Regions from separate parts of the Homo sapiens genome. Here all the other regions are linked to region 3. Evidence: fine-mapped expression QTL. A gene starts in region 3. Each other region holds a variant in brackets. All regions are shown on one strand. Distances are between the middles of the regions.

The links.
Region 1: its variant is fine-mapped to the expression of ZNF503 in whole blood (INTERVAL, PIP above 0.99). The same link has a PIP of 0.9 or more in T cells, blood mononuclear cells and monocytes.
Region 2: its variant is fine-mapped to the expression of ZNF503 in whole blood (TOPMed, PIP above 0.99). The same link has a PIP of 0.9 or more in blood mononuclear cells.
Region 4: its variant is fine-mapped to the expression of ZNF503 in blood mononuclear cells (TOPMed, PIP 0.95).

The regions. Positions count from the first base shown.
Region 1 is chr10:75,435,904-75,438,585 of GRCh38, reverse strand. It overlaps LRMDA (leucine rich melanocyte differentiation associated), which reads right to left. Exons shown (of 7, transcript NM_001305581.2): 2 at 92-192. Among named protein-coding and RNA genes, the nearest start is that of LRMDA, 5.6 kb to the right of the region's middle. The variant G/A (reference allele first, on the strand shown) is at 1,174.
Region 2 is chr10:75,358,158-75,360,839 of GRCh38, reverse strand. ZNF503-AS1 (ZNF503 antisense RNA 1) reads right to left here. Exons shown (of 4, transcript NR_038226.1): 3 at 2,133-2,330; 4 at 1-219. It also overlaps a transcript of ZNF503 not described here. Among named protein-coding and RNA genes, the nearest start is that of ZNF503-AS2, 42 kb to the left of the region's middle. The variant T/C (reference allele first, on the strand shown) is at 1,533.
Region 3 is chr10:75,400,153-75,402,834 of GRCh38, reverse strand. It overlaps ZNF503 (zinc finger protein 503), which reads left to right and starts at 1,071. Exons shown (of 2, transcript NM_032772.6): 1 at 1,071-1,730; 2 at 2,461-2,682. The coding sequence starts at 1,416. It overlaps ZNF503-AS2 (ZNF503 antisense RNA 2), which reads right to left and starts at 1,307. Exons shown (of 2, transcript NR_024421.1): 1 at 574-1,307. RefSeq lists an enhancer at 1,569-2,069.
Region 4 is chr10:75,421,791-75,424,472 of GRCh38, reverse strand. No RefSeq gene overlaps it. Among named protein-coding and RNA genes, the nearest start is that of LRMDA, 8.5 kb to the left of the region's middle. The variant G/A (reference allele first, on the strand shown) is at 1,408.

The DNA of each region.
Region 1 (2,682 bases), 36 kb before region 3:
TGGAACATTTGACTTTTATCTGCTTGGCCCTAAAGTACCCAGGAGGACTGGGCCTCCCAGGCCTGGCCTACATCTTGTGAAGGTTACATACCTCAGAAGGTTAAAGCTCAGATCAAGCCTCTTTGCGAAATGTCCACAGTCCCTGCCAAGGTGCTCTGGAATTTCTCTGCAGTCCTGGCCTATGTAGGACACCTGGAAATTAAATGGAACAGAAACAATGTGGCAAATGGAAATCACCCAGCTGCTCCCAACCCTGAAATTACTGATCCAATGATTGCTTCTGCAACTTGAAACACATGTTTCTCACACACAAAAAGGCCACACTTGTGACTGTTTCCCTGATCAAATCAGCTTTGGGGGCTCCAAGGACTCCACCAACAGCTCCCCTTTCCTGGTGCAGTTAACATGATGAAGACTAATCCCAGGACAATGGAAATTGGACTAAAATTGGCCAGATTCAGGTGTCCAAAAGAAACCTGAATATCAGGGCACATTGATATAACCGCAACAATCGCCCTCTCACTCAGGGGCTTTTGCAACAGTTGCTCCTCTGCCCCTTCTTCTCCCTCTCCTCCACTGCCCTCCAGTACCCTGGTATGCACATTACCTCATAAAAGACACAGCAGATGCACTTACCAGCATCCAACCTTCAGGGTGCTGGAACAAATAGGGTTGGAAAAGAAAACCTCCCCAGACCACAAATCCCATCCAGTTGCCACTGTGTACAAAATGCCCTCCACACCCAAACAAAGCTGATTTGAAGGCAACAGGGCAACAATGTGTGTCCGGGGCTCCTGAATGTCCCTCCTCCAGAGGCCCTTTGGCAGTCAATCCCACTCTGTGCACAAAGCTGTTTCTTTGGGCATTCTTCTATTTATTACAGATTATTTATTATTAAGTACCTGTATGTGCCCAAATATTAAAAAGCTGAACTGAACTGAATCTGAACTGATTCCAGAACCTGTGAGAAGGTCAGTGGACTTTCTCACTACCCTAATCACCCAGTTTTTGGAACCCATTTTTACAGACAGCACTCTGTGGGCAGATTGGCAACTAATCCTCAAACCATAAAATAAACCCATGAGGCCGAGTTGACCAGTGGGCCACAATGCATGCTGTTTCCCTAAAATACAACATGCTCAACCCCCAGCTTGAAATTCAAGCCCAAGACAC[G/A]GCTATAACCTTCTTCTGGTTTCCCTACAAATCACATTCTTCCACACATATAGACAAAGATCTCTTAGAATGAGAGAGAGAGAGACTCCCCAGGAGGGTGTTTCCTCATGGGAAACAAGACTATGGTGGCCATCTTACATCCTCAGATATTAGGTTCAACTATGTGAACTACCAATATCCAACCATTTTAGAACCACAAAATAGCTCTTTTACATGGTGCAACCTAATACAAGCTGCACTGAACCCTGACACCCTCAACATCTCCAGTCATCTCTCAACCTTCTCCTATCCAATGAGGACAAACTGCTGACAATGCAATATCCTATATCCACTCTCCTTCAGTAACTTCATTCTAGGAGGAGAGAAAATAAGGAGAAAGGATAGAAAAATAGCTGACTCCAATAAAGTAATTTTGACTCAAGAAGATATAGGCTAAAAAATAAAGGACTCTAAGTTCAATCTAGCAATCTCTCCTCTTTCTACCTGGGGTCCATCTTTCTTCACAGTTCCTTGTGTAATAAATTAAGTTCTGCTTCCAAGCTGAGACAGAAATCATATGCCAAAGAGAGACTGTGGCTATAAGGCCCTATTCTATCTGGGGACTTCGATTTCCCTCAGGATCTCTGCTCAGTCAGCAGCTTCTTGGCCAGGCGCGGTGGCTCATGCCTGTAGTCCCAGCACTTTGGGAAGCCGAGGTGGGAGGATCATGAGGTCAGGGGATCGACACCATCCTGACTAACATGGTGAAACCCCATCTCTACTAAAAATACAAAAAATATTAGCCGGGCATGGTGGGGAGTGCCTGTAGTCCCAGCTACTCAGGAGGCTAGGGTAGGAGAATGGTGTGAACCCTGGAGGCGGAGCTTGCAGTGAGCCGAGATTGCACCACTGCACTCCAGCCTGGGCGACAGAGCCAGACTTGTCTCAAAAAAAAAAAAAAATTCAGCAGCTTCTTCTGTATTGTACGTTCACAATGAACCCCAGGTCCATGGCGCTCACCAGAAAATCCATCCCATTCACCCCAGCCTGCACTACTGTCTTGCACATATTATCAGTCAAGACCTCTGTGATATATATAGCAGAGACGTTGAGTTTTAGATGCAGAAACTGGGCTCTTTCCTCTTAGAATGGCCAAGGACTAAATCTAATAGACACCCAGTTTGTCAAAACTTCTGATGTTTTATACAAGGAAACTAAGACTCCAGAGCCCTGCCCAGCACAATACAGCTTCTTAGTGATAGAGCCCAGATCAAGTCCTATGCCATAAATAAGGACTTCCAACTTGGGGGCCATGGAGTGCTTACAAATCCATGTGTGGGTGTGAGATTTCTCTCTCTCTTTTTTTTTTTTTTTTTTAAAGAGATGGGGTTTCACTGTGTTGCTCAGGCTGATCTCAAACTCTGAACTCAAACAATCCCCTCGCCTCAGCCTCCTAAAATAGCTGGAATTGCAGATACAAGCCACCATACCAGGCAGACATGAGTTTTCTTGATCAGCAAATGCCAGTGG
Region 2 (2,682 bases), 42 kb after region 3:
GTAAATTCATTGACCCAAATGGATTCTGAGCCTAATTTGAAGATTCTCCATGGATTTGATTTCTCTGTGCTTGGATGCTGTAGGTTGATTGCCCTTGAAGAATAGTTAGGCTGGGATGAGTTACTTGTTGGGTTCTTCTCCGGTTTGACCTGGTAAAGCTTCAGAACAGGCCTCTATAGAACATTACCTTCCAAAGTCTAGAGAATGGGCCAAGCCCACCTGTGGGGGAAGAAAGACAGTAGCAATCAACTCTGAATTCTTCAGGCTGGGTTCAGGGACAGATAGGGGTGGACTTCCAGCAGCCTAAGCAGGGCCAGGAATAGGGAGAGGAGAGAGGCACCTGGGGTACAAAATGTAAGGAGGCACCCACTCTCAGAGTCGCACAAGTGCAAACCTGAAAAACAAGGGCCCCCAGGCCGGTCACGGTGGCTCACGCCTGTAATCCCAGCACTTTGGGAGGCCGAGATGGGTGGATCACGAGGTCAAGAGATCGAGACCATCCTGGCTAACACGGCGAAACCCCATCTCTACTAAAAAAAATACAAAAAAACATTAGCCAGGCGTGGTGGCGGGCGCCTGTAGTCCCAGCTACTAGGGAGGCTGAGGGAGGAGAGTGGCGTGAATCCAGGAGGCAGAGCTTGCAGTGAGCGGAGATCGAGCCACTGCACTCCAGCCTGGGTGACAGAGCGAGATTCTGTCTCAAAAAAAAAAAAAAAAAAAAAAAAGAAACCTTTGGCAGCCATCCAACATCCTTAACCATCTTTTCCTTTCCATTTCTCAGCTCTGCGTTCCTTGATATTCTGCTTGGGCACAGACTAGCTGAAGGGAGACAGAGAGTCTCTTGGGCCTGGGTAATAAACACACCTAAAAACCAAGAGCTTCTCATTGCAGGGCAGGAGACAATAGGGGCCTGAAGTCAGAGGCTGTCCCTCGGGAGCAAATGAAGTGATTGGCTTCACTCTCAGGTTCCTGAAGCCTCTCCCAGGTGAAGACAAGAGGGTTACTAGCAGCTCCAGGCTTACTTCTGGCCAGTCCCAGGGGAAAAAGAGAGCTCCTCCTTCCCAGGAGCTGCAGCAATAGCTTTCACTGGCCCAGCCCAAGTCTAATGCCCATGGCTGAAATGATCACTGTGGCTGGGGACTAACCTGCCCTGAATGGTTAGCTCTACTCATGGGCTGACTCCTGGGGACCCCAGACATTCAACCACATTTGGAACCACATAGATTTAGTGAAGATGTGGGTTCTCCAAAGGAGAATCTGGTTGCTCTTGTAGGAGGGATGGGTGCTGAACAGGCAAACTCAAGAGCAGTCAACTCAACAGCCGGAGATGCTTCTAAAACTCTGGCTTCTCTGGAGGCCCACAGGACTCTTGCCCAAATCTGCGTTATTTGTGGGCCTCCTCTGTAGGCTTTCCTAAGGCATGAAATGCTTAAAATGCTTCTTGCTCATCTTTAGCCACCTAACCCTCTTCCCTAAGGCTCTGGCCAATGACTTGTGCATTACAGTCACTCAGGAAGAATTTGCTGATGTTA[T/C]GAAAGAATGAATGAGGAACTGTGCTGGGGCTGGGCCCAAAACTTTTATTAACTGCAGGGTTAAAAGCTATCGAGGGTCAGGGGCACCACAAAGGGGCAGAGGGAGTGAGTCAATTAACACCTGCCTTTTTATTTCCAAATCGAATTGTTGCATGAGGTTTGGGGATGATGTAACCACTCTGCAGTGTTGGGGCAGGATTTATGAGCTAGGGTATGTGGAGCAATGGTCTGAGCAGGCAGCTGGTGAGAGGCACTTACCCTGACTGCCCTCACTTGGAATCCTCCCGAAAATAATAGCTGTATGATATGAAGGCATCTTGGCAGAAGGACCGCTGCACCCAGGGTGGACCGGAGCTGAATCACTTTTTCCTGGGTTGGTATGGAAGGGTGTCCAGCTCAGGCATGGCTTCGTGTTGGGAGGGGAAAGGAGTGGGAATGTGGCAGGGTGGAGAATGAAGGGGCAGGCAGGATAGCATGTTAGCGCAGCCTTAGGGCCCGGGAATGGGGACATGCGCCATTGGAGTCATCCTAGGTTGAGTAGGGACTGGCATTAGCTAACACAGGGAGTCCATTTGTTAAAATCCATTCATTGTCTCCTACCTGAGAGGAGCAGGATTAACCTCTGCTGGAAGTTTCTGGGAATGTGGTTGGCACTGTACGAACTCGCTCACCACTCCATGGCCTGCTGTAGGGCTCGGGAGGGAGGAAGGAAGGCAGGCCTCCCCTCCTGCCTTTCCCACCAGTGCTTGGGTCCAAACAATGAATTTTCGACTGGGTCATTAAATGCTGATTAAAGTACTGGAGAAAAGAACAAAAGAAAAAACCAACATCAAGTGTTGTATGTACATACACGCTCTCACCCCAGGCCCCCCTTTCCCTTTCTCAAGCTGCCTCAAAGTTCGTTCCAACCCTCCATTGGAAATGCTATAAAAGGCCAGGTTAATTAAGTCCTATATATTACCAGCACAAACACTTCCAACTTTATTCCGGTGGCTCGGTGAGTGAGGAGGAGGCCGGGCAAGGTCCAGGCAGCTCAGGGTAATAAAACAGAAGACTCAATTACCTTGTACATTTGCAGTTTTATAAAATCATTTAAAGTTCTGCCAATGAAAAGCACAGTGGAGAGGCACTGGAATTCTGACATCCAGCA
Region 3 (2,682 bases):
CATTTTCCTGACACCGTGCGCCTCTTTCATTCTTTTTCTTAGAGCCCCCACCCCACCCCCATCCCAGGAGGCCGCTCCTCTTTTCCCCTCCTCCAGTTCCCTCTCAATCTCCTCCTTCCTCTCCGTCTCTCTCTCCCTCTCTCTTTTTCCCTTCAAGTCGCACCCGCCTTGTAATCAGCAACAAAAGCTGACATAAATCACGGGAGGATTGACAAGAGCTGACAAATAACTGATTGATTGCGGTCGAGGAACATTGACAATTGATGGAGGGGTGGAGATGCCCAAAGAAGGGGGGGAGGGAGGAAAACAGGGTGGGAGAGTAAGAATGGGGGGTTGGGGGACAGACTGAGGGTGAAACAGAGGAAACATGTGACCCCCGCTGCTGCCCCAATCTACGCGTCCCCGGGCGTCACGTGGCCGGGAAGGGCGGAGAGCCCAGCGCTCCTCGCGGTGTTGAGCCGCCGCCGCTGCGACTGCCCATCTAGCTTCTGGTTTCTCCGCCGCGGAATCTGAGGAAATTAGAGCGGGCGGGCGGGCTTCTTCCAGCTCCGGCTCCCCACCTTGCCTTCTTACCCTGGTGGCTGCGCTGCGCCGCGCGGGATCTCGATTACTGCGAAGGAAAAAACACTGGGTGTGCAGGTTCCCTTCGCCCCTGGAGTTGACAGTCCGGCCGGTGTCCACACTCCCACCGGTGCTCCTTCTGGACACCCCCCGCAGTCTGTTCCTCACGCGCACCCCCCTTCAAAAGAAGGTTTCAGTTTATTTTCGAGCTGGGGAAAGGAAGAACGACGAGGAGGAAAAAAGAGGGAGGCGGCGGATGGCAAACGTAGAATAAATGTCCATCTCGTCCTCCCAGCGAAATCGAGGGAGGGGACACACAGGGGGGCGGCGAAGAGGGAGCTGCCCATTAAAACCGGCACTGAGAGTCCTGGCAGCGGCGGCGGCGGCGGCGCGGGACGCGTCACATCCCCTTGACCCTCCAATCACCTCGGGCTCCCATTTGATTGGAAGGCGGCAAAGGCTTTAATCTCCCCCTTGGTGCAGCTGCTTTTGAAGTGAGTTTCCTCGCCAGAGCCCCGGCTGGACACGCAGCGGCTCGCATCGCAGAGCGCAGCGCCGGCGCGGGGCCGCGAGAACGCAGCGCAGGGGAGCAGCCCGAGGCGGACACCGCGAGCCGCCCGGCACTCCCGCAGTCCAGCCGGCTCCTCTAGCCCGGCCACGGCTCCGCTGCGGGCCACCCAGGATTACTCGCGTCTGGCTCCAGGCGCCGAGAAGGCGCGCTGGGCGCCCGTGGCCGCCGCGCCAGCTCCTCCTCCTCCCGCTGCTCCTGCTCCCGGGGCGAGCGCGCAGCCCCGAGCCCGCCCCGCGCCTCCCGGAGCCCTCCCCCCCGCTGCTCCCATGCGCGCGGGTGGGTCATGAGCACAGCGCCCTCGCTTTCTGCCCTAAGAAGCAGTAAGCACAGCGGCGGCGGCGGCGGCGGAGGCGGAGGCGGCGGTGCAGACCCTGCCTGGACCAGCGCGCTCTCTGGAAATAGCTCCGGCCCCGGCCCAGGCTCGTCCCCGGCCGGCAGCACCAAGCCTTTTGTGCACGCCGTGCCCCCCTCTGACCCCCTGCGCCAGGCCAACCGCCTGCCAATCAAGGTGCTGAAGATGCTGACGGCACGAACTGGCCACATTTTGCACCCCGAGTACCTGCAGCCCCTGCCTTCCACGCCGGTCAGCCCCATCGAGGTAAGGACCCTCTCTCTGGATCGCACTGGGACCACTACCCTGGCTGCCACCCTAGGGCTTTCTTTTTCTCGGGATCTGGGCGGAGGTGGGGGGGTCGGAGTGATTCAGCTCCCGAATGGGGGAAGAGGCTACTGCTTCCGTACCTCAAAACTAGGGCGGAAAAGGGGGAGGAAGTGGAATGGGGCGTGCATGCTAGGGAGCAAGGCTGCCAATACTTGTTTCTCCTTTCGATATGAAAGCCCCTACCCCGACCCAGGCCCCTTCACTCGGCACCGAAGGCAGGCGGAGGTCTGAAATACGGTTCCAAAGTCGCCGTCCTTCGTATCCGCAGAAGCCAGTGTGTGCACACAGCCTCTGAGGCGCCAGCCGCCCGAGCCCTTACTCTGAAGAATTAAGGAGTGTTTGTGGGGAGGGGGTACAGTTCTGGGTCTAGGAACCGAAAACCAAAACATTTTGCTCTTTAAAAATCTAGTTAGCGCTCAGAGAGGGCAGGAAAGATGCTGCTGGGGGTGGTGGTTGGGCGGGGGGAGCAATCTGCTGCCTTTCCCAACGGCGAGAATGTTTGTGAGTGGGTGTTGAAGAGGGGGTGCCGCCTAGAATTGCGCCTTGGGGCTGGGAGGATCTTCGTGGGCTGTTGCGGAGAGGCATTTGAACCCCAGAAGCCAGGATTCTAAAGGGTTTCCACTTCTTTCTCTGTGTGACGCTCCCCCCCCATCGTCTGACCCCGCAGCTCGATGCCAAGAAGAGCCCGCTGGCGCTGTTGGCGCAAACATGTTCGCAGATCGGGAAGCCCGACCCCTCGCCCTCCTCCAAACTCTCCTCGGTTGCCTCCAACGGGGGCGGCGCGGGCGGTGCCGGCGGCGGTGCTGCGGGCGACAAGGACACCAAATCGGGCCCCCTGAAGCTGAGCGACATCGGCGTGGAGGACAAGTCGAGTTTCAAGCCGTACTCC
Region 4 (2,682 bases), 22 kb before region 3:
TGGAAGCAGAGTCATTCATGGACACACAGAGGTTCCACAGCTCTATAAAGCATCTGTGGTTTTCTTGAAGAGGGAAAAACGCAGAAGGAGTGCTGGCCCTTATGCATGTCTGCACTGGCACAGAATCTTGTGGACACACAAAAGCACACAAACAGGCTGGGCACATTGGCTCACACCTGTAATCCCAACACTTTGGGAGGCCAAGGCAGGTGGATCACTTAAGGTCAGGAGTTAGATCACCATGGCCAACATGGTGAAACACCATCTCCACTAAAATTACAAAAATTAGGCAGGTGTGGTGGCAGGTGCCTATAATCCCAGCTACTTGGGAGTCTGAGGCAGGAGAATCGTTTGAACCAGGGAGGCGGAGACTGCAGTGAGCTGAGATCATACCACTGCACTCCAGCCTAAGTGACAGAGCAAGATTTTGTCTCAAAAAAAAAAAAAAAAGCCCACAAACATACATGTAAGCACATAGCCACGTGAGACACATGCCAACCTTGGATCCATGTGTGCCATCTCACAGCTATGGTCTGAACCCTGAACCCCATTCCTAGGCATGTCTTGGTCTCCCGTCTCACTGAAATAGCTACTAGTGGCCAGTAGAGAATGCAGACATTATAGGTACCAGTACTTCCTTAAACCTGAGAGGATTTATAGCTTATACTGAGGTGCTAGAAATTTATTCATTCAGTTCATTTGTTCAAAAAATACTAGTTGAGTGCCTACTGTCTGCCTGACAGGAATCTAAACTCTGGAGACATAGCTATAAAAAAAAGAAAAAGAAAGTTTCTACCCTTGTGGAGCTCATTTTCAGTAGAAGAACAGAAAATAAACAAGGAGGTCAGGTGTGGTGGCACACGCCTGTAATCCCAGCACTTTGGGAGGCCAAGGTGGGTGGATCGTTTGAGCCCGGGAGTTCAAGACCAGCCTGGTAAATGTGGTTTTGCCTGTCTCTACAAAGCTACCAAAAAATTAGCTGGGCATGGTGGTGCGCGCCTGTAGTCCAAGCTACACAGGAGGCTGACGTAGGAGGATCAGTTGAACCCAGGAGGATGAGGATGCAGTGAGCTGTGATCCCAGCACTCCAGCCTGGGTAACAGAGCAACACAAGAAAAAAAGAAAGGAAAGGAAAGGGGAAGGGGAGAAGGAAAATACAGAGTGTGATGAGTCCTGTGGAGAACAACGCAGCAGGGAAGGGGGACAGGAGTGCCGGGTACACAGGGTGACGAGGGAAGGCCCCACTGAGAAACTGAGATGAAGCTGAGATCTGCAGGAAGTAGGGGAGAGCCAAGTGAACTTCTAGGGGGAAAATGTGCCTAGCAATAGGAACAGCGAGTGCAAAGGCCCTGAGGCAGCAAGTGCACGTCGGGCTGGAGTTAGTGATGGGGGAGAGTAATGGTAAGT[G/A]AAGTCACAGGGCAGGTGTGAAGGGGACAGATCATGTAGGGCCAAATAGGCTGAGGTTAGGACTTGAGTTTGTACTCCACCTGAGATGGAGAGGGTTTTTTGTTTGTTTTGTTTTTGTTTTTGAGACAGGGTCTTGCTCTGGCACCCAGGCTGGAGTGCAGTGGAATGATCCCAGCTCACTGCAGCCTCAACCTCCCAGGTTCAAGCAATTCTTCCACCTCAGCAACCAGAGGACCTGGGACTACAGGTGCGCATCACTACACCTGGGTAATGTTTTTTTAATTTTTTGGAGAGATGAGGTTTTGCCATGTTGCCCAGGCTGATCTCAAACTCCTGAGCTTGCGGGATCTGCCCGCCTCGGCCTCCCGAAGTGCTGGAATTACAGGCATGAGCACTCCTGGCTAAATCGGGGGTCCTGAGCAGAGGATGGGCCTAATCTGACTCACATTTTGTAAAGACTGCTCTGGCTGGCTGGGTGTGGTGGCTCATGCCTGTAATCCCAGCACTTTGGGAGGCCAAGGCGGGCGGATCACGAGGTCAAGAGATCAAGACCATCCTGGCCAACATGGTGAAACCCCGTCTCTATCAAAACTACAAAAATTAGCTGGGCGTGGTGGGGCACATCTGTAGTCCCAGCTACTCAGGAGGCTGAGGCAGGAGAATCGCTTGAACCCAGGAGGCGGAGGTTGCAATGAGCCTAAATTGGGCCACTGCACTTCAGCCTGGCAACAGAGTGAGACTCTGTCTCAAAAAAAAAAAAAAAAAAAAAAAAAAGATTGCTCTGGGCCGGGCGTGGTGGCTCACACCTGTAATCCCAGCACTTCCAGAGGCCGAGGCAGGCGGATCACAAGGTCAGGAGTTCGAGACCAGCCTCACTAACATGATGAAACCTTGTCTCTACTAAAAGTACAAAAATTAGCCAGGTGTGGTGGTGCATGCCTGAAATCCCAGCTACTTGGGAGGCTGAGGCAGGAGAATTGCTTGAACCTGGGAGGTGGAGGTTGCAGTGAGCCGAGATCGGGCCTCTGCACTCCAGCCTGGGCGATAGAGCAAGACTCTGTCTCAAAAAAATAAAAAAAATAAAAAAAGACTGCTCTGGCTGCTGTGCTGGGAATGGATCATGGAGAAGGGACAGAGGCCAGGAGGCAAGACAGCAGGCTGTCACAGGAATCCTGTGGACTGTGAACAGTGCCTGGATGTATTTTGAAGATGGCATCAACAGAATTTTCTGATGGATTGGACATGGAAAGTGTAAGAAACCAATAGTCAAGCGTA